2 separate regions of the Homo sapiens genome follow, and region 2 is linked to region 1. A link means that fine-mapping ties the variant in region 1 to the expression of a gene that starts in the linked region. Tissue or cell type: whole blood. Region 1 holds a variant in brackets; the other region holds the start of a gene. All regions are shown on one strand. Distances are between the middles of the regions. Region 1 overlaps ABAT (4-aminobutyrate aminotransferase). Region 2 holds the start of ABAT (4-aminobutyrate aminotransferase).

What was found.
Region 2: it holds the start of ABAT, and the variant in region 1 is fine-mapped to the expression of ABAT in whole blood (INTERVAL, PIP 0.98).

Annotation. Positions count from the first base shown.
Region 1 is chr16:8,713,340-8,725,379 of GRCh38, forward strand. All of the region lies in intron 1 of ABAT (4-aminobutyrate aminotransferase), which reads left to right. Among named protein-coding and RNA genes, the nearest start is that of ABAT, 45 kb to the left of the region's middle. RefSeq lists an enhancer at 6,764-7,264. The variant A/G (reference allele first, on the strand shown) is at 4,579.
Region 2 is chr16:8,666,585-8,679,145 of GRCh38, forward strand. ABAT (4-aminobutyrate aminotransferase) reads left to right here and starts at 8,033. Exons shown (of 16, transcript NM_020686.6): 1 at 8,033-8,127. It also overlaps a transcript of METTL22 not described here. RefSeq lists enhancers at 7,030-7,531, 7,532-8,031 and a silencer at 7,626-8,085.

The DNA.
Region 1 (12,040 bases):
CCTATTTTACAAGGTCTGAAATGATGTGTCTTATCCTTCTGGCTTAAACCAAGCTGGGCTTAAAACATCTTTTAAAAAAAATCTGTATTCTATTTTTTTCTCTCTGTTTATCGCTCTCCTTCTGCCTCTGTTAATCTTTGTTTCTGTGTAGTTGCATCCTGTTTCTGTCTGAAAACCCTTGTCTTTCTGAATCCATCTTTCAGTCTCTCACATTCTGTCTTTCCCCTCCTCCTTCACCTTCCCTCCGTCCCTCTCCCTTGCGCACTTGCCGGGTACCAGCTGAGTGCATCCTTTTCCCAAACCTGCTCTGCTTCCAAGGGGCCCTTTTCTGTCTCCTCCACCTGTCCCCATGTTTTGGGGACTGCCTGGAAATCCGGGACACCCTCCTGAGGAGGGAGCTGGTGCCCAACGGCACCTCTTAGGATGAACCCAGCCAGCTGCGTTCCTGGCCTCTGCAGAATGGCATACAGAAGGCATTTTAAGCAAGCGAGCTGAGCTCGCCGCAGGACTCCGACTACCAGGCACCGTGAGTGCAAATGTGTATGTGTGTCTCTGTGTGCATCCTTACATGTGTATGTATTTGCTGCCATGGGGAGGTGGTGCCAGTGTCTGTCAGTGCCTGTTATCTGTGGTGTTGGGGTGTGCAGGTCGGGGGGGCACACACCCTTGTGCATCTGTGTACATGCGTGCACATGTGCCTGGCTCTCTGTGTGTAGGACACACAAATGTACTTAACAGATTTTTCAAGGACACTTTGTGAACACAGCAGGAGGAGACCCTTTAAAGTGGGGACAAAATAATGAAAGATGGATATAGAAATGATGAGATAAGGAATTGCTCTTATCAATAGGCTTGCAACACCACAGTCCGCCTGCATCTGGTCCTAGGAAATGAAGTGAGGGTCACCTTGAAAAGGCATTTTTGTTCAAGCCGCTAAATAAATCCTTTCCCTTCGTTCTAAGGACAAGAACAGCACAAACACACACACCCCTTTCTCTTTGAAACTCAGGGGAATGGAAGGCTCAGGGGGCGCTGTCACTGGGCATTTCAGATAGAGTTTGCAGTGAGAATCTCAGTTGACAGCCAGGGCGGCTCACGCCAAGAGTAGATGTCAGGAAGCTCTGGACAGCCGCTCTCTTCACATCTTGTGGCTGATTAGAAGTTCATTTTGAATTTTTTCCCAGAAGCAGCCTATGCCCCAAGAGGCAACCAGAAGAAAGCAATTTTAGAAAATGCAATTTCATTTGCAGGGCAAGATGTGGGAATCCTGAAAGGTTGGCGCTGAAGATCCTGCAGTTGGTGTGTGCAAGCTGGCAGCCAGGCCGCTGCCGGAGGAAGGGGGTCCTCTGTGCTTTGCATGTCCCTGGGTATTTGGGAAACTTGGCAGCCGGTTGCTCTAAGTGAACCCTGACTCTGGAGTAGGCACTGGGCACCCTGGCGGAGAGGACAGAGCCGGAGACAAGGACTGGCCTCAGGGAGTTTCCAGTTCAAATAGGAACAGACCCGATCACACGCGATACGCTCACCCTCAGACACATTGCTGCTGCCTGCATTTCCTCCGGGCTGCCATCCCCCTTCCCCTACCCTGGCCTCTGTCTGCCACGACTGCCCTTGTCTACCTGCCAAGCTCTAATTATCGTTAAACATCCCGTCACTGCTTCCCGGAAATCTTTAACTTCCACCCAAGAACAGCTAACACTATACGCCCTCCTCTACCTGCAGAAATCACTTGGACCCTCTGACATCACATGTCCAACCGACCTCTTTCTCCACATTTGCCCGTGAGCTGCACTTCATTTTGCAAGGACATAAAGAAGACTATTCACGCAACTACATGCAAAATGACTGGCTGGGATTCCTAAAACGCCAATGTCTTTTAAAAGGCAAAAGGGCTGAGAAATGGTTCCAGGTTAAAAGAGATTAAAGAGCCATGAGCCCAAATGCAATGTTTGATCCTAGGATGAAGCCTGGATCAGGGGAACAGAAAACACTTGTGGGCTGGGCTCAGTGGCTCATACCTGTAATCCCAGTGCTTTGGGAGTCCGAGGGAGGAGGATCACTTGAAGTCAAGAGTTAGAGACTAGCCTCAGGAATATAGGGAGACCCCATCTCTACAAAAAATAAATATAAAAATAAACTAACCAGACATAGTGGTGTGTGCCTGTGATCCCAGCTACTCAGGAGGCTGAGGCAAGAGGATCACCTGAGCCCAAGAGTTCGAGGCTGCAGTGAGCCATGAGCCATGATCATGCCACTGCACTCCAGCCTAGGTGATAGAGCGAGACCCTGTCTCTAAAAAAAAAAAAAAAAAAAAAAACAATTAAAGAAGTTTTAGGGATAAGTGGGAATATCTGAATATAGATTGTATGTTAGATAATAGTATTTATAGTATTTTTATGTCATGAATATGCCAATAATAAATAAATTAAAAAAAGATAATAGTATTTTATTAATGGTACCTTCATGAGAGTGACTTTGTATCTCAGATCATTTGTACTGAGGTTATGTAAGAGAACATTCTTGTTCTTAGAAGATACAGGCTGAAGGATTCAAGGATGAAATATCACAATGTCCACAACTAACTCAAATAATTCAGAAGACAGATAATAGAGTGGGCACGAGTGTGGCAAAATGTTAACAGTTTCGAGGATTACAAGCGGCTGTGGAACTATGTTCATAACTTTTATGTGGGTCTGAAGATTTTCCAGTGCCCAGGCTGGGCACTCTGCTTAGCTTTGCGCGTGGATTATCTCATTTCATCCTCAGAGCAGCTTGGGGATGGGAGAGCTCTATCACACCCATTTTCCAGTGGAGAAAACAGAGGCACAGCTAGTTGTAAGCCCAGGCCACATTATGCCCCCACCCCCTGTTTTGTGAAATTTAGTACTAAAGATACTACATGGCTGTGTGATGTCGGGCAAATCACTTAACCTCTCTGTGATCTGTTTCCTTTTTTCTTTTTTTTGCTACGAGTGGATAATTATAATATCAGAAGGTTGTTCTGATGGGTATTATGATATATAAAGAACTTAGAACAGGGTTTGGCCTAAAGTAAGCGCTGAGCAAGTGTCTGCTGTTGCTGCTGCTAATTGTATTTGTTGCTGCAGTCGTGATCCCAGCACCCTCACCTTGGCCAGTGATGGGGAAACCTGAAGGGTGTTTTTTCTTCTGTACCCAGGGCGTGCTTCATGGGTTTGTGATCTATATGGTCACACAGGGTCCCGTGTTCAGAAGATCCCCCCATGTCACTGACTTGCAATTCGTAACCATTTTCTCACAAGGGGCCTCGAATATTTATTTTATGCACTGGGTCCCACACATCATGTAGCCAGCCCTGTCTGCTCTCCCTTTTTATTGGATCCCGTTGAGAGCCTCTCCTAGACTAAACTACTTGTGCCTACGTCATTGCAGCAGACAGGCCCAGGCAGGCCGTGGCATTTCAGCAGGTCAGATTGTATGTTCCTGTGACCACACTCCAATTCTGATGCAATGCGTCAGCCCGCACAGGCCAGTACAGTAGCCGTTCATCACATCTGGTCATTGAGCATCTGAGACGTGGCTATTCTAAACTGTGATGTGCTGTGAGTGTGAAATTCACACCAGATTTTGAAGACTTAGCACACATCCGAAAAAGAAATGCAAAATATCTTATTAATAACTATATTGATGGCCGGGCACGGTAGCTCGCGTCTGTAATCCCAGCACTTTGGGAGGCCAAGGCGGGTGGATCACTTGAGGTCAGGAGTTTGAGACCAGCCTGACCAACATGGTGAAACTTTGTCTCTACTAAAAATACAAAAATTAGCCAGGAGTGATGGCACACACCTGTCATCCCAGCTACTCGGGAGGCTGAGGCAGGAGAATCGCTTGAACCTGGGAGGCGAAGGTTGCAGTGAGCCGAGATTGTGCCACTGCACTTCAGCCTGGGCAACAAGAGCAAAACTCCATCTCAAAAGTAATAATAATAACTATATTGATTATGTATCAAAATTATTACATTTTAGATACAATGGGTTAAATAAGATACATGAAAAAAATTGGTTTCAGCTGTTTTTGCTTTTTTCATATGGCTACCAGAAAATGTAAAATTACCTATGTGGTTTGCATTGAAAGCTTGTGTTATATTTCTTTTGGGCAGTACTGTCTTAGAGCATACTACCTGTGCCTTCATTGTGACTCCAAACCAAACCAGACCAGCAGGTGACAGTGCAGTGAATTGATTTCTAAGTTACATTAATACACACTGGCCCTGGTGCTGTAGCTTAGACCAGAGTCTCCCAATCAATCCATCAGGCACCTCTTTCTGTTCCTTCTTTTCTGTTCCTTTCTCTCTTAAGATAGTCCAAGACACTGATTTTTATACCCAGTGAGTTTGTCAAGTAGCCTAAAGATATTTTTGAGGCAACGTATTGGGTAAAAAGAAACTGAAGTTGGAATCAGAAGGACTAATTTAAGAATTAAATTAAAATCCCAAATCACCTCTTTTTTTTTTTCTTTTAGAGATGGGGTCTCGCTCTGTCACCCAGGCTGATCTCAATCTCCTGGGCTCAAGCGATCCTCTCACCTTGGCCTCCCAAC[A/G]TGCTGGGATTACACATCAGGTCCCAGGTCACCTCTTCTCCATGAGGTGAGCTTGGGCATGTTATTTCTCTGTGCAAGGAAACAGAACAGCACTAGCTTTAAAGCCTCACAGACCCGAGTTTGAAGACTGGCTCTGCCGTTGACAAGCTGTGTGACACAGGATAAGCCACAACCCTCTCTGAACCTCAGTCTCATCCTCAGTCTCATAGCGCTGATGATGCATACTGTGTAATACTGTTGCAAGAATGGAATAAGATGAAGCAGAACAAATGTCCAACCCAGCAACTGGCACATGGCAGGTGTGCGCTTAATCCCTGCATTCTTAGTGGGATCAGTATTCCCAAGAGAGTGAACATTTATGGGAAAGAAAAGAAATCTTACTCTTTATGAATAAAGTACAGATATAAAATACAATACATAAGCAGATGTACAATTTATCTGTGGAATTAAAATTTCATGGGGTATGTAGCTAATAAAGAATCTTTAGGGGAATGGCAATGAAAAAAAGTTTGAGAAACATTGCATTAATCTGACGGATGGGACTCAGAGGTTGCTTTTCAGTTCAGTTCCTGTAGTTGTCAGAGTATAGGGCTGAAACTCCATGATTGAATTCAACAAGTGTTTTTGAGCACCTACAATAGCCAGACACCGTTCTGGACCCTGGAAATGGAGGGCACCCTCCAGGTACATGCTTCCCAGAGCTGGTCTCTGAGGTCCCCTGAGCCAGCCCCTGCCTCTGGGAAGATGACCCCTAAATGGCAGCCTCAGTCAGGGGGCAGGGTTTTAGAGAACAACAGGAATAGAAGTATTTGCCTCCCAGGAGTAGATAAGACGGTGTATGTGAAACCTTGACACGATTGGCATTCATTCGTAAAATCAGAGCAGATACCTGCACACACAGGCATAAATGAAAGATACTTTGAATTACAGAAAAGTTAAGGTCTTTGCAAGTGCATGTAGGAATGCTGCCAGGCACACAGCGTGACTCCAGCCACCAACAAAGTGTTTCCAAGTCTGGAGCTGTGTGGTCCTTGAAGGAAATATAAATGTTTCACTTGTTATACGCTGTGATTTTTGCGTACTTAGCGGTTTCTGGAGTCCGTGAAAGTGGTTTGTTTTCTCTGAACGGGAAGTGCGTTTCCTCCAATCACACCGACCTGATTTGTTTGTTGCTTGTTGGGCCTCCCCACGGGAACACGAGATCCCACAGAACACAGCAGGACGTGTCCTTGTTTACTGAGGAATCTCTGGGGCTCGGCACAGGTGTGCAGAAAGCATTTATTGAACTGAACAAACAGATTTTACAAGCCGGACCTTCTGTGGCGTTGGCCCGGGTAGCTACTTCAGCATGGGTCCAAGCATCCTTTCTAAGCCAATTCCATTCTTTCACTCCTCCTCCCTTGTAGGATCAGAAATCCAAAGCTAGCTTATCCTTTTGCAGATGTTTCTTTCCATATTATTTCCTACCTCCAGAACAAAGGCTATCTGTGTCTCACATTCGGAGGCTTGGATGTGAAGCCCTGTCTGTTCATTTTTCTCTCCAGTTTTTTCACAGGCTGGGTAACTACCTGCCTGCTAGCAACGATGTGTTCGTTCTCCCTGGATTCCTGATTGAGGTGGGCAGAGAGGACTCTGAGACAGGAGCATGAGGATGAGGCAGATCAGCTTCTTTCTCATGAAATCTGGATGTTGAGGCTGGTAGCAGGACCACCGCATGTGCCAATAGTCTTTAGCAGCTCATCAGGCCATAGAAGAAGTGCCTTTACTAACTTCAAGTCCAGCCTGGGAAACGTAGTGAGACCTTGTCTCTCCCTGTCTAAAAAAAGAAGAAGAAAGAAGGAGGAGGAGGAGGAGAAGGAGAAGGAAAAAAAGAAGTTGTTCACAATTTTTGTTTACTCGTTTACTTATTTTTGAGATGGAGTTTCACTCTTGTCGCCAGGTTGGAGAGCAGTGGCACGACCTCTACTCACTGCAACATTCGGTTCTCAGGTTTAAGCAATTCTCCTGCCTCAGCCTCCCAAGTAGCTGGAACTACAGGCACCTGCCACCACGCCCAGCTGATTTCTGTATTTTTTTGTAGAGTTGGGACTTCACCATTTTAGCCAGGCTGGTCTCGAACTTTTGACCTCAGGTGATCTGCCTGCCTCGGCCTCCCAAAGTGCTAGGATTACAGGCGTGAGCCATCGCGCCCAGCCAAAATGCACAATTTTAAAGAGCTCTTTGGAAACAGAAAATGGCCTGCAACAGGCATCTCTTCCACATCCTATGTACTTTCTTCAATTGACCCTAAGCCAGTTGAGTGCCTCCTGACCCCACAAATAGATTTCATTCTTCCCATTTTACAGATGCAGAAACTAAGGCACTGATGAGTTCAGCAACTTGCCTAGGTAATATATATGGCCCAGCCACACTTTAGACCCAATTTCTGGCTCTTGTTACTTTCCCCACATCATTCTCAGTCTTTCTTAGGAATGGACATTTGCCTGTTTCCAAGAACAGTATTTCTGTCTCCCTATACAAGTCACTGATAATTTTATGATGCCCAAGAGGCAGGTGATAGGAAGTCATGCCTGCAGGGAGAGAGGGCTGGGGCCCATGCGGAGGGGAAAGTCAGAAGAGGCTGTTGCAGCTGAAGTCGGAGGAGAAAAGTGGATGTGAGATAAAGCCTCTGTCCCTGTGCCACTGCCCCTGAATGGGGCCCTGTTAACCCCATCTGCACAGGCCCACGGCTCCGGCTTTATGGGTTGCTATGGCAACCCCTGGCCTTGACAACTGAAGTGCACTTGGCTGAGTGTGTCTTTGTGTCCCTTTGAGTCTGCAGAGAAGCCAGCAGCTGGGGCTGCAGACGGGAAAGGAATGTCCTCAGCGTCTGCCAGCACTTTTGTCTTGGTCCCAACGGCTGATAGGAAAATGAGAGGCAGGGTCTTTTCTAGAGAGATCTGGGGGGTCCATTTCTAGCCGATGATGCATGCAAAGAGTTCGTGTTCACAGGACCTGGGAAGCAGCGGAGTAGAAAGGTGAGTCAGACGCCATCTTCATAGGCTGCTTGTTGAGCATTTACTGTTTATTCAATGATTGTTTGCAGGCAGGCACTGCTCTGGGGCTGGGGAAACAGTAAGGACTTCTGCCAGCCCACAAAATAGTTCCAATTGCTATTACTCCCATTTTACAGATCAGGAAACTGAGGCACAGAGACGTTACTTAATGTGCCTGAGGTTATACGGCGGGTCAGTGAGAGGCCAGGGATGTCTAGTCTGGGGGTAAGATCATTTTGAAGGATGCAAGATTGGGGAGATGCAGGGAAGAAGCAGTTTCATATCCAGCACCTCACACTCTGCCTCCACAGGCTTTTTTCTCCCTGTATCCATGGGATGTTTGACCTCCAGTTCCAGGGATTTGAGGATCATGAAGTCCTGTGGTCATATGCAGGGCCCACCGTCCACTCTTTATGGTAATTAACAGTAGTTCTCAGCCTCCGAGCCTCCAGAGCTTCCCCCGGTGCCCAGGTCACACCTGTGAGACTCAGACCTACTTAGTCTGGGTGGGGCTTTGACACAAGTGTAAGCTTCTGGTGAGCGAGCGTCAGGTGCAGCCAACGCTAGAAATTTCTGGCTTTTGAGCTCTAAGACCTTGAACAAGCCTTTTAGGCTTCTGAACCGGTTTTATAACGCCAGCCAATCCTGCAGATTACCGAAAGGATCTATGGAAGGTCTATTGCATGTGGTAGGTGAACAGTAAGTAAATAAATGGGAGCTGGTACTTTTACTATGATTATTCTTTCTCCAGAGCAAATTGGAAGAGTTTGTTTCCACTTTCACCTGAATTCCTCTCACTTTTACTGATTTAAACATTGAACTCGGCCTCTTAGCTCATCTCGCCCCTCCCCGCAATGCACCAGACACACGAAGGAAGCAGAGAGAGCTAATTTGCATTTTAATCAAAAGAAAAAGGACGAGGAGAGGTGGGTGGGACTGAAGAGCTCACTATCTGGCTAGACCAGGGTTTTGACTTGTTTTGACTGAGACACACAGTAAGGAATAGAACTTACTTCAGGCCCACTGCACAGCTGAAACAAAAATTACCAGCATTTGCTATGTACCCTGACAATTCCTATTCTGTTTGATTTACTGATGGATTTAAATTTCTCTTTCAGTTCTGATCATGTCAAGGAAAAGGTCCCCATGTGATGCCAGCCTGCCTTTAACACCTGTCTGCTCTCTGCCAGTCTCTAGGGAAAGGAGGGGGCCAGGCCTGGGGCTATAGCCTTGGGCGGTCCACTCTGTCCGGCTTTTAATTGAATAACTTGCTTTGATTTTATTATGTTCTTTTCCTAGTTGCCTTCGTAGCAAATAAAACTTGACGGGGGAAGATAGCAATTAGGTTTTTTTATTTGTTATATTTTTCTTTGTAGAGACAGGGGTTTCACTATGTTAGCCAGGCTAGTCTCAAACGCCTGGCCTCAGCTGATCCATCTGCCTCGGCATCCCAAAATTCTGGGATTACAGGCATGAGCCACCACACCTGGCCAGAAGGTAGCAATTGGAAAGGATCCTAGGAAAATTACTTTTTTAAATTGAAAAAGCAAGTTGATTTCAAGAAAAATGTTAAGTCAACACAAGTCATATGAGACATAAGAGCTCAAAGGAAGGGTAGTATGCCAAGAACTGAGGTTCGGGAAATGCATGGGGGAGATTGGGGGTCTCAGAGACCAGGAGGGCCAACAACCAGCCTGCTGTAACTTCAGATTTTCAGATTTCTCCAACCTCCTTGGTCACAATTTCATGGCGTGCCAGTGCTCTGAAAGCACCTCCCTTCTAACCAGGAATCCTTCACCTGCTTCTTTCCCCAGATGCGCCCATCCAGGGTCTAGCGGATTGCAAAGGGCCTGGTAGAATCAAAGAGGGATATACTAATGCAACTTCGAGGTAGGAGCAAGGCTTGGGGAAAATGCTGTGGCAAATTCTCAGTAATATGGAACTCTTAGCACGCTTGTCAGGTGTTTCTTAGAGTCCGAACGGGCCTTAGAAACAATGTGATCCAGCCAGGCAAGGTGGCTCATGCCTGTAATTCCAGCACTCTGGGAGGCCGAGGGATCACTTGAGGTCAGGAGTTCAAGACCAGCCTAGCCAACATGGTGAAACCCTGTCTCTACAAAACATACAAAAATTAGCCAGGTGTGGTGGCGTGCCCCTGTAATCCCAGCTGCTCAGGAAGCTGAGGCAGGAGAATCACTTGAATCCGGGAGGCAGAGGTTACAGTGAGCCAAGATCACACCAGTGCACTCCAGCCTGGGTGACAGAGTAAGATCGTGTCTCTCAAAAAAATAAAGAGAGGAAGCCGAGAGGCTATTTAGGATATCATTGCCTTCATCCAGGAGAAGGATGATGGCAAGTTGGACCAGAGCATGTTGGAGACTTGTGCACCAGCAGGGATATACTGGAACCCTGGGCACCCAGCTCCCTTCTATCATCATTGGTGCTTCAGGCTTCTGTACCAAGAAAGAGAGCCTTCCCTTGTGGCAGCCTGCATCTGGGGTTTCCAGTGCAAGCCTGCAGGGAAAGTCTGCCTATCTGTGGGGCCTCTTTCCTTGGCAACTCCAGAAATCTCCAGGGATCTCAGACCATAGGGCTCTAGAATCAATGACTACATCTTCAGCAGCAAGTATAAGACAGGAGCAAGTCAGAGACAGAGTAAATGCAAATGACTTGTGTGCCTATGATTGTCCAGGATGTGTTCATCCATTATCCCTAATTCCCAGCGCAACCCTGCAGTGAGAGAGGCATCACTATCTCCAATCTACAAATCAGGAAACTGAGGCTCAGAGCATTTTTGTAAGTTTCACCCTGTTGTACAAGTACCTAAGATAGGGCAGTGGTTTGGATCCAAGCTTTTTATATATATATATATATATTTTTTTTTTTTTTTTTTTTTTTTTTTTTTTGAGACGGAGTCTTGCTCTGTCGCCCAGGCTGGAGTGCAGTGGCATGATCTAGGCTCACTGCAACCCCCACCTCCCGGGTTCAAGCAATTATCCTGTGTCAGCCTCCCCAGTAGCTGGGATTACAGGTGCACGCCACCATGCATGGCTAATTTTTATATTTTTAGTAGAGACAGGATTTCACCATTTTGGCCAGGCTGGTCTTGAACTCCTGACCTCAGGTGATCCATCCACCTCAGCCTCCCAAAGTGCTGGGATTCCAAGTGTGAGCCACTGCGCCCAGCCCCAAGCTTTATATTCTAAAACCCAGGCTCAAATACCACCTCCATGCACAACCCACATATCTTAATTATCTATTATGGTGCACATAACAGACATCACTAATCTATCACATTTTTTCCCCTGAAAACCTAAAAGAGTGCTTCCTGCTAACAGGTCAAAAAATAATGAAAAATAAAAAATAAGTAAAGCTAAAAGAGGCCGTAAAATCTTTTTGTTCGCTGCTCCAAATAGGCAATACTCATTGGCCAGCACTGGCACGTGTTGTAACATTTATTTGCCATTTCAATACTGCACAGAAAATTAGCTTCTCTCAGCTAGGCATGGTGGTTCACACCTGTAATCCCAGCACTTTGGGAGGCCAAGGTGGGAGGACTGCTTGAGCCCAGGAGTTCAAGATCAGCCTGGGCAACATGGTGAAACCCCATCTCTCCAAAAAAGAAATACAAAGATTAGCCAGGTGTGGTGGCATGTGCTTATAGTCCCAGCTACTCGGTAGGCTGAGATGGGAGGATCACTTGAGCCTGGGAGCCAGAGGTTGCTGAGATGGCACCACTCCACTCCAGCTTGGGCAATAGAGCCAGACCTTGTCTCAGGAAAAAAAAAAAAAACAAAAAAAAAAAAAAAAAAAAAAACAATGGCAATCTTGGGGTCACACAGCCTGTAGCAGGTGGAAATTGAAGAATAAGTCTGTGTGATCAGAGTGTGTCATTACTCTACACACACTTCTTTGGTCCTCTCCCTTCCCATCTACAAAAGACAGCCAACTCCAATATCTCTTTTTTCTTTTTTTTTTTTTTGAGATGGAGTCTCACTCTGTTGCCCAGGCTGGAGTGCAGTGGCGCCATCTCGGCTCACCGCAACCTCCGCCTCCCGGGTCCAAGCGATTCTCCCGCCTCAGCCTCCAAAGTAGCTGGGATTACAGGCGCCTGCCACCACGCCCGGCTAATTTTGTATTTTTAGTAAAGACGGGGTTTCTCCATGTTGGTCGGGCTGGTCTCGAATTCCTGACCTCAGGTGATCTACCCGTCTCGGCCTCCCAAAGTGCTACGATTATAGGCGTGAGCCAGCGCGCCTGGCTTTTTCATTTTTATTAAGATAAACATAACATTAACCTTTTTAAGTGAAAACTCAGACCCTTTTAGAACATCCACAATGCTGTGCAGCCACCACCGCTATCTAATTCCAGATTTTTTTCATCACCCCGGAGACCCCCGTACCCATTAAGCAGTCATCTCTCATTCC
Region 2 (12,561 bases), 46 kb before region 1:
CTGAGATGCAGACATTATGATCATCATCCCATTTTACAGATGGGACTGAGGCTCAGAAGTGAAGTCATCTATGTAAAGTCATGTAATTCTTTATCGTCACAGCCAGAATATGAGCCCAACTCTCTTTAACTCCAGAGTTTGAGGATATAACCATTCTGCCATGCTGTCTCCTGATTTTCTTTTCTTTCTTTCTTTCTTTCTTTTTTTTTTTTTTTCTTTGAGATGGAGTTTTGTTCTTGTTGCCCAGGCTGTAGTGCAATGGTACCATCTCGGCTCACTGCAACCTCCGCCTCTCGTATTCAAATGATTCTCCTGCCTCAGCCTCCCTAGTAGCTAGGATTACAGGCACCTGCCACCATGCCCAGCTAATTTTTTTGTTTTTTGTATTTTTAGTAGAGACAGGGTTTCACTATGTTAGCCAGGCTGGTCTCGAACTCCTGACCTCAGTTGATCTACCCACCTCAGCCCCCAAAAGTGCTGGGATTACAGGCCTGAGCCACCGCGCCCGGCTCTGTCTCCTGATTTTCATCTTCCATTGTCTGTAGGGAGGAGAGATGAGGACGAGAGGGAGAAAGGATGCCTGGGCTTGCTTTCTCAGTGGGGAAGAGTTCAATCTCAGTTCAGGTTTTCTTTTAACAAAATTTTTATGTTAATAAAATTAATAAAGTTGTTTTATTTATTTATTTTAAATTTTTATTTTCTTTATTATTTTGTTATTTTATTTTAAGTTCTGGGATACATGTGCAGAATGTGCAGGTTTGTTACATAGGTATACATGTGCCATAGTGGTTTGCTGCACCTATCAACTCGTCATCTAAGTCTTAAGCCCCGCGTGCATTAGGTATTTGTCCTAATGATCTCCCTCCCCTTGCCCCCCAATCCCCTGACAAGCCCCTGTGTGTGATGTTCCCCTCCCTGTGTCCATGTGTTCTCACAGCTCAACTCCCACTTATGAGTGAGAACACGTGGTGTTTGGCTTTGTGTTCCTGTGTTAGTTTGCTGGGAATGATGGCTTCTAGCTTCATCCATGTCCCTGAAAAGGACATGATCTCATTCTTTTTTATGGCTGCATAGTATTCCATGGTGTATATGTGCCACATTTTTGGGGTTTTCTCCTCCTCTGTAAAGTTTCAGCACAGAGTTCCTGGACAGCGCCTCAGGGCCAAGAGCTCCCCAAGAGCTCCCCAAGAGCTCTCCAAGATGTCCTTCCTCAGCATCCTGCTGTCCTTTTCATGCAGTGAAATTGATACGTATTCCTAGAACTCCTACTGCATGCCAAGCACTGTCAGAAGTCAAGTCATCAAAGAACTCAGAAAAGAAGTACATGTTTAGCTATTTTTTCCATCAGTCTCGATGAGGGAGCTACACTCCAACTGATCCCTGGAGATACCACAGCCATGTATTGTCAAGAAGAATTGGGGTAAATAGGCAGGGTATCTCTAGCCACAGGAGGAAGGGACCCAGGATGTACTAAGCTCCTTCTATATTCTTGGAACTACATACACATTAACTCAGGCAGGGTTTCTCAAGCTCGGCACCACTGACATGTTGAGCATGAGAATTGTCTGTTGTTCACTTTCTGCCTTTAGGAAGTCCTGCAGAGCATGGGGGTGGCAGTATGACCCAGCTCCCCTGTCATTTCACTACATCTTGAGCCAGAAGGGGGACTGCACTGCCGTGCATCCTTTGGGCTGGCAATGCTGGCGGTCCCAGTCATCACAATGGCAGCAGAACAAAGCCCTGACATGTGTGTGACGTGTCAGATGCAGCAGCTGCCTGTTGGGCCTGGCTCACTTTCTCATGCTTTCCCCATATTACCTGAGATGTTCAGAGGAGGAAAGCTGGAGGCAGCCCTTGGGTCTTCTAGGAGCCTAGCACGAGGGCCAAAATGCATGAGAACAAGCACAAGATAATCCCATAGAAGCCTTCCTCTTAGCATTCAGGCCTCAGATTAAATGTCACAGCCTTGTGGACAACTCCCTGAGCATCATGGCTGGTGTACCCACCCTGATCCCAGGAACATCATCTTATTTTGCATTTCCCTAAAGCACTTATTATCAGAAATTAGCTTCTTAGGCTGGGCACAGTAGATCATACCTGCATTCCCAGCACTTTGGGAGGCCAAGGTGGGAAGATCACTTGAGACCAGGATTTCGAGACCAGCCTGGCCAATATGGCAAAACCCCATTTCTACTTAACATACAAAAACTAGCTGGGTATGGTGGTACACGTCTGTAATCCCAGCTTCTCGGGAGGCTGAGACACAAGAATCGCTTGAACCGGGGAGGCAGAGGTTGCAGTGAGCCAAGATAGCGCCACTGCACTCCAGCCTGGGTGACAGAGCAAGACTCCGTCTCAAAAAGAAAGAAAAAAAAGAACGAATGAAAGAGAGAGAGAGAAAAAAAGAAAGAGAGAAAAAAATGAGAGAGAGAGAAAGAAAAGAAAGAAAGACAGAAAGAAAAAAAGAAAAGAGAAGAGAAAGGAAAAGAAAAAAAAAAAAAAAAGAAAAGAGCTTTCTTAGTTACACATTCATCTTCTTATACACTGTCTCCCAGCTGCAGAATGGAAGTTCCATGGGGTCAGGACCACAATCCCCAATGCCTGGCACGCAGTAGGTGCTAAATGTGTATTTGTTGACTGAACAAATTGATGGAAAAATTACTAAATGAATGAATGAGCTCTGGCCCACCTCTCACAATCAAGCAGATAGTTTGGTGAAACTAGTACAACTATGTACAGGGCTAATGCACAGTGCCCAGCAGGGACCAGGAGCAAACTTCCCTTACTTACCCAACCAATGACCTACTGTGGTACATACTTTTTTCCTTATTATGGTAAAATACACATTGCACAAAATTCACCAATTTTTACCATTTTAGAGTGTACAATTCAATGGCATTAAGTACAATCAAAATGCTTTTTTGTTGCTGTTGTTTTTGAGATGGAGTCTTGCTCTGTCACCCAGGCTAGGTGGAGTGCAATGGCACAACCTTGGCTCACTGCAACCTCTGCCTCCCAGGTTCAGGCAATCCTCCCACCTCTGCCTCTTAAGTAGCTGAGACCACAGCCACACACCACCACACCTGGTTAATTTTTGTATTTTTTCTAACAGTGGGGTTTTGCCAGGTTTCCCAGACTGGTCTCAAATTCCTGGGCTCAAGTGATCCGGCAGCCTTGGAGCTCCCAAAGTGCTAGGATTACAGGTGTGAGCCATTGCACCTGTTCCCCCTTCCCATGTTTTCTTCTAAGAATTTTATAGTGTTAGGTCTTATATTTATTTAGGTCTTTGATCCAATGTTGAGTTAGTTTTTTTATATGGTGTGAGGTAAGCGTCTATCTTCTTTCTTTTACATGTGAAAACGTGGTAGATACTTTATTCAATTTACAGATTAGAACATAGAGACTGAGAGGGAGTAAATGACATGTCCAGAGTCACATAGCCATTGGGAGTTGGAACTAGAATTCAATATTAGGTCTGACTCCCAAGTTGATCCCCTTTCCACCACATCAAAATGCCCTTTATTATTTTGTATAGATGATATCTCTTTATTATTTTGTGACCAGGGATGTGGAAATCACAGGCCTAGTCAATAAAATATGTGCTTTAATCTGGCTCTGGACAAGTTATTCCTCCTCTCTGGGCCTCAGTCTCCTCTTCTGTACAATGGGCTGCTGATCTCTAAGAGTCTCTCCTGTGGAGACAACTGGTACCCTTGGAGCCTCATTCACCCTTGCCTTTGTTTTCATTTCTCCTCTCCAGAGTGCAGTGGGGGCCCTCCCAGCTACAGCTGCGCTTCTGGAAGGAGCTTATTGATAGGCACAGAGTATGGGTGAGTCTTCATCCCAGGCCTCAGCCAAACTCTGGGAAACACTCTGCATTCCCTGGCAGACAGCTGCAACCCCAAGCAGCTCCATAGGAAAACTGCAGAATGGCAGAAAATGCAAGGGAAGCCAATATGGAAAGGGCTTTTTCCACATGCTGACAGTTTTCTTCACAAGTATCACAATGAAGCTATTTGAGAATCAGCTTGCAAAGCACCTGGCTCTAAATAGCCTTCTCTCCCTAGTCCTTAAGTAGAGACAAAGCAGCTCCTTTTATCCTCTAGAAGTGCCCTTTCCTAGGGCCTGACCCACAAATGGGTGCTCAAAACCTAGTTGAATGAATGAATGAACAGATGAATGAAGATGGCTACACACACTTCTTATTTCCCTTGATTGCCTTAGACCAGGACACGGCAGATTTTTCGCAAAGGGCTGGAAGGTAAATATTGTTGTCTTTTCAGGTCACAGAGTCTCTGTCACAGCTACTCAGCTCTGCTGTTGTAGCTCACAGACAGCCATAGACAATGCATAAATAAATAGGCCTGGCTGTGTTCCCATAAAATTTTATTTATGCACAGTAAAATTTGAATTTTATGTAGTTTCTATGTGTCACATAACATTATTCTTCTTGTGAATTTTTTTAACCATTTAATATGTAAAACCAATCTTAGCTCATGGTCATAGGAAAACATGATGAACTACATTTGGTCTATGAGCTATAGTTTGTCAACCTTTGGCTTAGACTCTTTTTTAAAAAAAAATTATTTATAAATAGAGATGGGGTTTCGCCATGTTGGCCAGGCTGGTCTCGAACCCCTGGCCTCAAGTGATCTGCCCGCCTCAGCCTCCCAGAATACTGGGATTACAGGTGTGAGCCACCACTCCGGGCCCTTTGGTTTAGACTTTTCCTTTCTGTTTTTCATTTTAAATATTTTCTTCTTAGTACCAGAGTAATATATATTCATTACAGAATAATTAGAAATTAGTGACATTGTAAAGTTTATCCTCTATTAAAAATAAACCCAAGGGGATAAAAAGAAATTACTGACATGGACATGCAAATAAAGTAATATTAGAATAATCTATAATTTCAATACACAAAAATAACCATTCTCCTACTGAACACAGTTTTTCACTCAGCATTGCTAGCTAGCTATATCGGTGCCTTTTAATATGATAGCCACTAGCTACCTGTTACTGTTACACCTTAAATTAAAATTAGATACAGGCTGGGCGTGGTGGTTCACACCTGTAATCCCAGCACTTTGGGAGGCTGAGGCAGGCAGATCACTGGAGGCCAGGAGTTTGAGACCAGCCTGGCCAACATGACGAAACCCTGTCTCTACTAAAAATTAAAAAATTAAACAACGAGCCAGGCGTGGTGGAGCACGCTTGTAATCCCAACTACTCAGGAGGCTTAGGCAGGAGAACCGCTTGAACCTGGGAGGCAGAGGTTGCAGCGAGCTGAGATCACACCACTGCACTCCAGCCTGGGTGACAGAGCGAGACTCCGTCTCTAAAAAAATAAATAAATAGATACAATTAAAATACAGTTATTCGGTTAACTAGTCATTGCTTTTTCCAAAATTTTAAATTTATTTTTCCCTTTTCCTTTTTTTATTATTTCTTTCTTTCTTTTTTTTTTTTAAACATCTTGGATACCAAAATTAGTCATTTCAGGTGTTCAATACCTCCATGTGGCTAGTGGCTACCACACGGGACGGCACAGATATAGAGCATCATAGAAAGTTATATTACACAGCATTGATCTAGCTCTACCTGGTAGATTTAACAAAAAGTAAGATGTTTAACAAAAAGTAAGACAGTACCAAATATACTGTTTTTGCAAATAACTTAACATTTTGAGATTTGTTTTGTTTTGTTTTTGAGACAGGGTCTCACTCTGTCACCCAGCTGGAGTACAGTGGTGTAATCTTGGCCCACAGCAGCCTCAACCTCCCAGGCTCAAGGCTGCCTCAGTCTCCTGAGTAGCTGGGACTACATGCATGCGCCACATCGCCCGGATAATTTTTGTATTTTTTGTAGAGACAGGGTTTCACTATGTTACCCAGGCTGGTCTTGAACTCCTTGGCTCAAGCGATCCTCTTGCCTTGGCTTCCCAAAGTGCTGGAATTACAGGCGTGTCACCACACCCAGCCCCATTCAATATTTCATACCTATGTTTATTGTTCAATTTCATGCAACAATTTCCCTCTGAGTCCCTGCTGTTGTGCATTCAAGTTGTTCCCAGTTTTTCCCTGTGATAAACAAAATGGTAGTAAGCTACTTTATCATTAAATCTTTGTACCTTTAAATGTTTTCAGATAAGTTCATAGGGATTGGATTGCTAGATCAAAGGGTCAACTTACTTTTAAGATTTTTAAAATAGAAATACCCAATTTCCCTCCAGAAAGGCTGTGATCTTTCTACTGCCATCATCAATACATGAAACTCCTTGAAGTCTTTGCAAAGAATAGTAATTATAATAATAAAAACAAGGTCATTTTGGTAGGTAAACTCTTTCCCTCTTTTGGTTTTAACTTGCCTTTCCTTTTCAAAGTGTCATCTCCCATGTTTATTGGCCGTTGTATTTCTTTGGGCAGGTCAAGGGTAGTAAAGGGGATTATGTTCATGGCTTTGGTTTTAAGAAAAAATTGCTAGATTTTCAGCACAGGCCTCATCAAGTTCCTCAAGCAAGGTGACAATCACCCAGGCTAGAGTGCAGTGGTGCCATCTCACCTCAGTGCAACCACTGCCTCTCCATTCAAGCGATTCTCATGTCTCAGCCTCCCAGGTAGCTGGGATTACAGGCAGGTGCCACCATGCCAGGCTAATTTTTGTATTTTTAATAGAAAGGGGGTTTCCCCATGATGGCCAGGCTGGTCTCGAGCTCTGGGCATCAAGTGATCTGCCTGCCTCGGCCTCCCAAAGTGCTGGAATTACAGGCGTAAGCCACTGTGCCAGGCCTCAATTATTCTTATTTACTGCTCTGTGTGTGTGTGTGTGTGTGTGTGTGTGTGTGTGTGTGTGTGTTGGGGGGGAGGGTCCCCAGAGGTGACACTAGGAGGTGAATGATTTGTTTGGCAGCTTTCTATTTATCTATGTGTTTACTTTATCTTAATTCTTTAATTGCAAGGACTATAGCGCTTGTGTAATCAGAGATAGGGCAGCCTGGATTCCTGGACAGCAGGAGGAGAGACCTCAGGGTTCTACAAGACTCCACAGACCAAGTTATCAGTGATCAGGGTGAGTGGGGAGAACCAAGCTGAACTCTTTCTCTGCCTTTAAGGTCTGTACTCTCCATCCATCCATTCATTCATTATGAGGACTTGGTGATCGCCTGTTGTCTTGATGAGCAGTTCTTTGTGTCTTTGATTTTGTCACTGAAAGATTGCATCCTCTTTCCAAATACCTCTAGAAAGCTGTGGGGGGGCTATCCATCCGTCACACCTGAGTATTAATTATCTTCCACACAGCATTTTATACAACGGTAGAAAGGCACCTTCATCATATCTAGGGTCTCGTTTATACCCACGAAGGAGGTACAATCTCTGTTGTCCCAATTTCAGGAAATTGAGGATCAGGAGGCGCAGTGACCTGCTCCAGGTCATGCAGAAGGAACCACCTCTGACTCCCAGCGCCCTGTTTGTCTTCCGGAGCGCTGGGGCCAGGCGGAGGAAAGTAGCTGGGAGCAAGAAGGGCTGGCAGGGCCCTGAGCGCCGAGATGGGGAGTGAGGTGGGGAGGGCGGGATGCTCCTTCCCTTCTCCGCAAAGGAACCCCTTCTGATTCCGACTCTGGAGCTCCAGAGACCGGATCCGAGACGCGGGTGGAGGTGGAGTTACACTCGCCTGCAGCCCTGAGGGTGTAAATGGCCCATTAAGATCCAGGTTAAATCAACCTATGGAGCTGCCCCCCAGAGGGTCAGGGTCCCCACAACTTGACGGGGGTCCTCAGCCGTCTCCTCCCCAGTCCCAGGACTCCCTCCCAGCCCTCGCGGTCCCTCTGGTGGGTCCCGCCCCAGCCCCCGTCTCCCCCGCCCCCGGAGGCTGGACTCTGCCCCCGCCCCGCCTGCCACCTCCCTCCTGGGGGCGGTGGCCCGTGGCGGGCGCACCCATTGGCTGTGGCGAAAGCGAGGGCCGGGGCTGGCGGCGCTGATTGGCCGGGACGCTCGGCGGAGCCAGGGAGTCCGGCGAGTCGCTGGGGGAAGTCGAGCAGACACCCAGCGCTGCCGGAACTCGGGGCGCGCATCCCGCAAGTCGGAACCCGGCGGATCGGATCCCGCAGATCGGAGACGGGGCCTGGAGGTGAGCGCGAGGCGCCGGGTGGCTTGGGACGGGCCCTTCCGAGGGGAGCCGAGAGGAGGTCCTTCTGCCCTGCCCCCAGGAGCAAAACCTGGGCATCTTCTCCTGGAAACGGAGCCCTCATCTTCCCAAGACGCGGGGCCCTCCCCCGAAAAGACAGGGGCTCCCACCCCCCAGAGAGCAAAATACCTTCCTTTCTCCTTCAGAAATGGGCCCTTCCTCCTGGCTCCAGCTCTAGACAGAAGTCCTCTCCCTTTTACCGCTTGAAATAGAATGCGGCCCCAAAAAGTGGTCTCCAGGTCTCTAGAGCCCCCTCACCTCTTGGGAGACTGATGCCCCTTCCCCATCCTTAGAAAACTAAGTTTGGGTGTCTTCCTTCTCCCCTCTCTTTCGGAATAATGGGGGTCTTCTCAGCTTATAAATTACAGTGACCTCCCCCTCCATGACAAATGGAAGCTCTCCCCCCATCATAAGACAAGGAAATCCCGGAGCAGAGACTCTGCAAGTCACCCTCCCACCCCAGATACTGGGCTCTGGAGAGATAGATGATTCACCCTTAGCCCTGCCGGAGACCCCTCCCTACCCGTCAGAGAGGCAGGGTGGCCTCTGACACCACCACATTAAAGGCTTTTGGGGATTTCCCCTCTCCTCCCCAGTAAAGATGTAAAATGAGGGACCTTCATACTCAGGAGCAGGGCAAAGGTCTGGCCACCCCTCCAAGTCATCCACCTCCCTCCACTCCACCCAAGCCCTTTCACACAAACCCCATCCTAGTAACCCCCTGCACCATCCTCCCACCGCTCCCAATCCCATCCTTCTCCACCTCACCCCAACTCCACTCCCACACCTGGCTGCCCCACCTATTTCACATCCTCTCACCTTTCCTCACCCACCCTGGCCAAGGTAAGACTAGAGGGGGTTCAGCGAGATTTAGTAAGACTGGAGCTCTTAAAACTGGGATCTGGGGCCTAGAGGCCCTTCCAGGAGTCTTCAAACTCTGACAACAGAGATGGCCTCTGAGGCAGCAGGACCAGCAGAGACCACCCGCCACCTCTCCCCCGCTCCCTGCCCCAACACACGCACAAAGGCTGTGTTCAATGCATTCTCTCTTGCAGTCTGGGAGGACAGCTGGCCCTCTTCCAAGAGGGCCCGCATTTCCCCCCTAAAGTGTGCACCCCCGCAAGCGCCTGTGGACATTGCCTGGTGGAATTCCCTGGGCACTCAGCCAAGAGAAATGGGTGCTGCTGGGCCCATCCACTGGGGAGGAGACAGTGTTGGCTTTGCTGCTTTGATGAAGCTAGACTAAGGGACAGGATGTTGGTGACCTGGGGGTGGGGAGGGGGTGGGAAGAGCTCTTCTCTGGTGGGTCAGGTTGGGAGGCAGGAGAGAGGGAGGCAGTGAGTTGTGTCTTGCTCTTTGGAGCCTGTGTTGCGGCGTGGAGTCATAGAGAAATGTGTTTTCTCGAGGCCCAAAGAGGTTAGCCACGGGGAGAGGTAAATGGTCCAGTCTGGAGTCCTAAGACCTAAAAGGGCTTCTGCATTAAAGACGTGGCCCCTTCATTTGACAGTTAAACACACAGAGGCACAAAAGGGGAAGAGACTTGCTCAAGGTCACCCAGCCTGTGGGAGACAGCTGGCCCCAACCCCTCCAGGACCCTTAAGGTGCTAGGATCCCTGACACAAGCCCCAGTCCTCACATTTACAATGGGGACTTGGGGACTGCTGGGTCCCAAGTCCCCACTTGTCAGAGGAAGCGCCAAGGCTCTGCAAAGGTCATGAAGCCAGGAAGGGGCAGAGCTGGAACTCAATGCCATCCCCCAGCAGGCTGCCTCGTGGAATCCATTCCTGGGTGTCAGCGCATCCCTGCTTACCCCGTGCGATCTTTGTGTTGAGGCCATTGCCAAATCTAGGCTTGCCAAAATCCAAACTGACCCAGGATAGCTAATAAGATCAGTTGCAGCTAATGAGAATGAGATGCTGGAGTGGAGGCTACTGCAGGAACCTCACTTGCATAGCTGGGTTTGCTCCAAGAACTTTGGACAGGTCCTGAGGATGTCATATTCCTTCCCTCCAAGGTCCCCTCCCTCTTAGCCCCTGCCCACGCCCTCTGGCTTTGAGTTCCCTGCACATTGTCTCATCTCTGTTCAGAGGCCTGCGTCTTTTCTCCTGGGGCATTGCATGGGAAAAGAGCTGAAATTCTGGCAGATTCTCTAGGACCACCCAGCTGGGCAGCATGGTCTGAAGTAGAGGCTCTCTCTGTTTCTGCCCCCACCCAGTTCCCAGCTAAAGGATTGGTTGTTGTGCCCCAACTTTGCCAAGGCGAAGTTCAAAGCATGAGGAGGACCACGGTAGAGAGGCCGAGAGGTTGGTCCCTGGAGACCTCTTATCTGGGTCGAGAGCACAAATCTGCCACTTAGTGTCTGATCTTAACCTCTCTGTGACATATCCTTGGGGTAAAATGAGTTAATCCTCATAAAATGTTTAGCACACAGCAAAATGAGCAGAAACAATGATTACAAGTGCAAAGTCATAAAACCTCTAATCATGAAGTGGGGAGGTGCTTATGCCTTAAGGCAAAACTTGTAACCCTTGCCGTAGATAATCTGCCAGGGCCAAGGTGCCTGGGGACAAGGGGATGTCTTCCTAGAGAGACAGTGTAGTATGTGGAATGGACCACAGACCCTGAAGCCAGATGGAGTAGAGAGTTGGCCACTGGTAGTGGCTGTCTATGGAAACTTAGGCAAGTCATTCATGTCTCTGAACCTCAGTTCCTCGTCTTTGAATGAGGTTTGTTGGGGTTGGACATCAGAAAAGAGACAGGTCTAGATGAGGGGTTCTCATTTTGGGCACTGTTGACAGTTGGGTCAGAGGATTCTTTGTTGTGGGACTCCCCTGTGTATTGTAGGATATTCAGCAGCGCCTCTGGTCTCTACCCACTAGATGCCAGTGACACTCCCTACCCCATGAGTCATGTCCATCAGAAATGTCTGCAGACATTGCCAGATGTGCCCTGGGGAGCAAAATCATCCTTTTCCTTCGCTATTGAGAACTGCTGGTCTAATACATGGCCTTAAACATAGTTGATACTTAATATAAAACAGCTTCCTAGCTGAGGCGGGTGGATGGCTTGAGCCCAGGAGTTTGAGACCAGCGTGGGCAACATGGCAAAACCCCATCTCTGTAAAATACAGGAAAAAAAAAATCAGCTGGTCATGGTGGCATGCGCCTGTAGTCCTAGCAACCTGGGAGGCTGAGGTGGGGGGATTGCTTGAGCCCGGGGAGGTCGAAGCTGCAGTGAGCCATGATCACACCACTGCATTCCAGCCTGGGTGACAGAGTGAGACACTGTCTCCAAAAAAAAACAAAATAAAAACCAAAAACAGCTTCTTTCTTGCACAAGCTCCTCGTTTTGGTTTCTGTGTAATGAGGAGAAGGAGATGTGTCTAGCTGTGGAGCCTTCCAATATTAATAACAATTTTTAATTTCTCACATTTACACAAGACTTTCTTGTCTGGTTTTTGTTTTTCTCTTTAGTAGAGACAGAGTCGGGTGGTCTCTAACTCCTAGGCTTAAGCGATCCTCCCGCCTTGGCTTCCCAAAGCACTGGGGTTACAAGTGTGAGTTACAACCAAAGCGCTGGGGTTACAAGTGTGAGTTACAGGAATAAGCCACAGCACCCAACCTACACAGGACCTTATCATCTCCAAAGCACTGTTGTGTCTATGACACTGTTTCTCACTCTACAGATAAGCAAACTAAGCCTCACAAAGGTTAAAAGACTTGTCTAAGACCATCACCCGCTTCTCCACCAGGCATCAGAGAAACATCCATGCCAGAAATTGTTTGAGAAACAACTGAGTTCTGGGCCTTCTTCAGATTAGTTATCAGGGTCTTTCGAAACTTCAATGGCATGCTCTTTGGTCCAGCAATCCCACTTTGAAAAATCTCACACAGAAATGCTCACACTTGCACTGACATAACATAAAAATGTCCATGGCAGAGCTTGCAACACTGGTATGGGAAGGGATTACAGTATATGCATTCATGTGGGAGAATGAGTAGATTTTAGATGAATGAGGTGGATCCACATTCCTGACCTTGAAAGGTTCCTGAGTCATATTATTTAGTGAAAAAGATAAAGTCACAGAATCAACATAGCCAGTATGATCCTATTTTTTTTTAAATGTAAATATGCATGAACATGGATAGTTAGGGAAGTGGGGAATTAAAAGGACCTAGATAGTATGTATGTATGAGAACATATTCCTGGGGGAAGAAGAAGAAAATAAATCTCCGCCAGCTTCCCATGCATTAAAAATGAGCAAAGTGGGCTGGCCACCTTGTCTCACGTCTGCGATCCCAGCACTTTGGGAGGCTGAGGCGGCAGAATCACTTGAGCCCAGGAGTTTGAGGCTGCAGTGAGTTGTGAGTGAGCCAC